2 separate regions of the Homo sapiens genome follow, and region 2 is linked to region 1. Evidence: fine-mapped expression QTL. A gene starts in region 1. The other region holds a variant in brackets. All regions are shown on one strand. Distances are between the middles of the regions.

Evidence for each region. PIP is the estimated chance that this variant, and not a neighbour inherited with it, causes the effect. A credible set is the group of variants that fine-mapping cannot tell apart.
Region 2: its variant is the best candidate, but not a certain one, in a credible set for the expression of GALNT13-AS1 in tibial artery (GTEx, PIP 0.83).

Annotation. Positions count from the first base shown.
Region 1 is chr2:154,455,597-154,458,521 of GRCh38, reverse strand. It overlaps GALNT13-AS1 (GALNT13 antisense RNA 1), which reads left to right and starts at 1,084. Exons shown (of 5, transcript NR_161181.1): 1 at 1,084-1,156; 2 at 1,618-1,725. It also overlaps a transcript of GALNT13 not described here.
Region 2 is chr2:154,360,586-154,363,510 of GRCh38, reverse strand. The region is part of intron 9 of GALNT13 (polypeptide N-acetylgalactosaminyltransferase 13); the gene reads right to left. Among named protein-coding and RNA genes, the nearest start is that of GALNT13-AS1, 95 kb to the left of the region's middle. The variant G/C (reference allele first, on the strand shown) is at 1,575.

The DNA of each region.
Region 1 (2,925 bases):
TTCAGCAAACACTGTGAAGGTGGAATTAAGGAGATTTTCTAATGGAGAGAGAGATTTCAAGGATACCAAGATTTTAGGCCTGAGCAGCTGGCAAAATGGAGTTGCCATCAACTGAGATGGAAATCTCTGGGTTGAACAGATTTGTAGGAGAAGGCAAAAAGTTAAGTTTTGGACAAACCAAGTTTCAGGTGTCTATTAGTTATCCAAGTGTAGATGTCAAGTAGGCAGTTTTTGAACTGGATAGAGATATTTGGGAGTCATCAGCATCGGAGACATTGAAATATGTGCTTCTGGATGAGATCACCAAAGAGTCAATGCAAATTGAGAAGGCCAAGGACTGCACCTCGAGGCACTCCAATATTAAGACATGGGAGAAAGAAGGGAAAGCTTAGCAAAGGAAACTGGAAATCAATGGCCAATGAGGTGGAAGGAAAACCAAAAAATGAAGAAAGAATATCCAAAGGAGGAGTTGGTGAGCTGCTGAGGCAAATGATTCTAAATCCACTAATGGAAACTAGAGTTTTAAAAAGCTAACTATGTGGGAAAAAATGGATTCTCCACCCCTTTGGTCCATATAAATAAAGGAAGAAATTTGAAGTGCTTTTATATATGCAACTTAACTTCATGTCGTTGTTTAAAAGCCAAAACGTTTCACAGGTACATAGGGAAAGCAAGCTGCAGGCTCAGGGCTGAGAACACAGGTCCCATTAGTCTTAAGGAAGGGTGTTTTAAATTCTGACCTCAATTGTTTAGACAATGTTGATTTCACAGCCTCCACCTTATATATATTATCATGTAGGAGATAGAGTGCTTGCTGCAGTAAGTTCAGGTGTTTTGTGTTGCAGAGAAAACTGTAAAATCTGTTTTAGATGTTTGCATGTTTACCTAGTTTTTCACTTCAAAAAATTGGTGAAGAGACTTCTGTCAAAAGAATTTCAGTGGGCTACCTACCACCTCTTTCCCACAGTGGAAGCAGAGATTGGTGATTAATATCCTCTGTCCTGCGGGGGAAAAAATTCATGATGTCAGAAAATGAGTGAGTCAACAGAAAGCCTACCTAAGAGTCTCCTTGGCTGAGGAGGAAGACGAAAGCACAGTTCTGAGCATGAGAGCTCACATTCTGTTTCTACCAGGTGCTGAAGAAAAGCAAGACAGGGTAAGTTATGGATCTATCAAAGCCTGAAGTGGGTGGGGTTGCTTTATTAGGTTATACTTGAGTACCTGGTTACTGCTGGAAATGTATGCTGTGCGTGGACAAGAGTAACCGAAAAGAGAGTAACAGAGTTGGGTATCTGGAGTCACACTTGGTTTACAGAAAGCCAAGAAGGGACAAAATCTAGAAATGTCCTTTACACTTGCTGACAGTTATAAGTTGCGGAAAACTAGCGAGGTGTTCATGTTTGCAAATCAATGGACTTCTGAACAGGAACTTTCAGATGAGTCTCTTCAGAATAAAATTATGAAAACAGATTATTAGCATCGTCTTTCTCTCTTCCCTTCCCTCCCCTCCCCTTCCCTTTCCTTTCCTTTCCTTCTTCTTTATTCTTGCTTCCCTCTTCCTCCCCTTCCTTCCTTTCTCCACCTTAGAAAATTAAATGCTCTTTTTGATTATCTTAGTGGTTAAGACTGAAGAGTTGATCCTGCGCTGTGCTGTGGAGTGGGCAGCTTCTCTCCATCTTCTCTCACCCTGACACACTGTCTTAGGATTCCAGTCTCAGAAGCCAGGTATTGGGTATGGTCTATATTCTGAAAAATAATTTTTATCATTGATGTGAGACTTTTAAATTTTTCTATTTTTAGTCATTTTTATAAAACAGAAAGAAAAAAAATCCACCTCAAATCATTTCAGAATCAAAAATAAATAAAAATAAATGCTTTAAAATCATGCATATTTTAGTGTTTCTATTTTATATATTTTGATAACAAAATTGTACTGGGAACACAACATTTTCTTGGTGCAAGGAGATATTCATAGGCACTTAATCATTTATTTAAATAATCCACAAACATGGAGGTTAAGCATAAAATAGTGACGTTGTTTATCTATTTGAAATGTTAACCATTTATTTTCCAAAAAGGCAATATATACCAAAGGAAAACTAAATTGGCATATTTTAACTCTACAAAAATGTATGAATATTTAAATTTACAGCAAAAGAACAATTATATCATCTAATAATGCTTACAGTATTTAAAATCTGTCATTATGCACAATCTACTTTTATAAATGTTAAAGAACCATGTGCCAAGCATATATCTAAAACATTTTTGAAATTACTCCTTTCTAGCTGTGGCTACACTGACCAAAACAACAACAACAACAACAACAAAACAAAACAAAACAAAAAAAGCTGAAATACAAAAAAAAAAAAACAAAAAAAGACATGTAATCATCAAGTTCTTTTTTCCCCCTTGTGCTATTTTTAGCAGAAATTTCAGCACAACTGGAACCAAGCAGCAGCTTACTTTCGTTTTCACACCAATGGAATGCATGATGAAAATCTCATTTTTAAAAAACATTATAGATATAGCCTTAATCATCTAATTTTCCATTCTCATTCTAACTCATTAAAAACAGAATATTGAGTGATTTGTTCTCCCTAGCTAAAAACAAAAACAAAATAACTTTATATAACATAACACAAGTATCGCAGAAGTGGTCTTTATCTTAAAGGATCCTTAAGAAAAGAGCTGCCTGAATTCACCAGTATTTCAGAGGGATTTTTCTTTTAAAACAAATACAGTGAAAATTGTCTTTAGAATTTATTGACCAATATAAAACAAACTGGGCTACACATATACACAAATTATTTAAAACACATTGCTGGTGCTCATTCAACACCATAAATTCATACAATAGCTGATATTTAGTAGCAGTTCGAACATGGTGTAGTCACAACAGATGTGTCCATGTACTATACATAA
Region 2 (2,925 bases), 95 kb after region 1:
TTGCAACAAAATTGCATTTTTAAGAAAAGGTCGTGCAATTAGCTGATGGATTGATGGAGATAACTATGACAGGCAGAATCCTCACTGGTCCACTGCAGAAATCCACAGAATAAATAATCAGAACATTTGAGCTTCCCCCCGCTCCACAAAAAAAAGTTAAAACAAATGCTATAGACATAATTCAGAATACTGTTCTGAAAAGACTGGAAGCAAGCCAAGGCTTGAGAATATCTAAGCCATACTGGGAAGGCAGAGAAGATGAAAGAGTAGTGATTCAAACTGGGGTGAGCTGGTTGGACAGGCGTACATCTGGCTTACCAAGCCTATTGGGTTTTTAAGCCAAGAAAGGTAATACAGTGCGAGAAAAAGTTAGCAAAACAAACAATGGATTCTGAAAATAACAAATCCCAGAGATCAGTAGAATCAGGTGAGAAAAAAACAAGTTTTGAATGTACTTAAGCTTAGAAAGTATTTCTGGGTTAAAGTAAATGAGAAAGCAAAACAGTGTACAATGCAACTTTAAAAGCTGTGTAAGGAATTTGGTAACTCAAAAATAAACTGACAATTTCATTTGTGATTTAAATCTGTTATAATGAAAACTCACGTGATTACTTTAATACTTTAAAGGGTTTGAAAGGTTGACCTACGCTAATTATTGAGCCATATAGTATCCTCACACTCATGAAAATGAATGTGGGGAGAAAATTTCTTCCTTAATGCAATAGCTATTTGGCCACTTGTAGGCAGTATTTTAGAGGTGATTCATGCATTGCTTAGTATAGCAGTTATGCAAAACTTAGTGCATAAAACAATGACCAGTTTTTTTAGCTCATAATTCTGTAAGTCAACAATTTGTCTGGGCTTAGCTGGGCTTTATTTTTTCTTCTTGTATATCAAGTTTTCTCTTGCATTTGGCAAGAGCTTTTGGGTTGGGTGGGGGTTGGCTAGTTTAAGATGACTTTGACTAGAAAGACTGGGATGAATGGGACCTCTCTACACATGGTCTCTCACCCACCAATAGTTTAAACTGGCTTGCTCATATGCTAAACATTCTCCGAGAGAAAAAGAGAAAGAGAGAGAGGAAAAGATGAAAGGAGAGGTGGGGGAGAGAGAGAGATGAAATATACAAATCTTTAGTCTGAGAATCAAAACCTACTCTATTTTATTCTATGTCATGTATGTCAGAAAAGCAAGTAATAAGACTAGTCCAGACTCAAGAAGCGAGAAACTAGATAGACTCACTTCTTGATGTGGGGTGGGGTGGGGGTGGGGGTAGAATTTGTGATCATTTTTTACACTCTGAAAATATGTGTTAGAATAGAAACTTCCAAGGACCATTCCAATTCTTAATGCCAATTCTTTTGTGAAAATAGGGTGCCACCAGTTCCTGTGGACACTCAGTTGTTTATCTTCATTGCCTTCTTTACTCTTTGTTCTTTACTCTTCTATGTCTGAAGTGATAGCTTAGTTAGAGCTGATTCCATGGGACTGGGCTCAGTAGTAGCAGGATCTTTTACCAAGAACTGTGGGCAAACTAAATCAAGTATGGCAGTCAAGGGCCAGTTATCTTGAGA[G/C]ATGAGTCATATTAGTTTTCCAAAATAAATAAGTCTTGGAAAGAGTGCCAGAAGCTAAACTAAGAAGTCTTAGGAAAGCCAAAACTAAAATTCAAGCATGAGAAATCACTGCCCAAGACTGAGGTGAATAATGTTTATTTAAAAAGCCTAATCATGCTTATTAGAATGACACAGGCCTAGTTTTTGACATTCAAAGGCCCAGAAATTAAGTGGATATGATTCTTTTACTAATCAGTATGGAATCGCACAATAGTAATAGGCAGCATCTGTTAAGTACTCACTATGTGACAGAAATGGGCTAAGCACTTTACACTAAATCTAAAGGCAATCCTATGAGATAGACACTATTTTTAGTTTTATATAAGAGGGATTTGAGGATTAGAGAATGCACTGTATTACAGCAAAATGATAAAGTTTACACAACTGGCAAGCAGGAGAGCTAGGATTTCAATCCAGGACAGTCTGATTCCAAATATTCAGCCTTGAATCACAAAGTCATAAGATCACTCCAAAAGGTTTTGGCTGAAAGAATTATAGACCGTCTAGTTACATTTTAGAAATGTTATAACTTAGCCAATGTTACATACTTAAACAGTATCAGAATTGGAGCTAGAGACTAATTTAGGTTACACATATACCAATCTTGAAGGAAGCGTTTATGCTATATATGCATATAAACCGTATATGGATACATCATACAAATTAATCTACAACATGCCCCTATGCTTTGTAATACCAGCAGTGTTGATCACATTCTGCTCAATAAAATCTTTATAAACATAACTTAAATATCAGACAAAAATAAGCTGTTCTTTTGGGTGTTTAATATGAAAAATATGTAGAGAAATTAGGCTATTTATGCAAGATCACTTTACTTTCTTCCCCACCACTCACTCCATGCTCCAATTGTTTTACATAACCCATCTTTCCAAATTGTGTTTTGTATTTTCATTTTTTGTTTTCAAATTTCCTAGGTTTTTAACCAACCCCATCTTCACTCCCCTTCCCCATGCTTCTAAAGTATGATTCATCTTTATAATCCCAAGTCAAATGCCTCAACCCTTTTTGGCTGGATTAATCTCATCCTTCCTTCTCTGAATTCTTGTATAGACTTAAATTGCCTGAGAGCTATCATGGTGCCACATCAAACTGAGTTCCTTGAAAGCAGGAGCTCTGCTTTCTATTTCTTTAAATTTCTAGTACACAGTATGTTACTTGGTACAACATACGTGCTCAATAAAGATATACTGAATAGTCACATTTATGACAATAGACTTATGAGACATCCATCCACACATAGGTACACGTTGCAAATTTGTATCACTCTAAAAACAGGCACAAGCCATCTGAG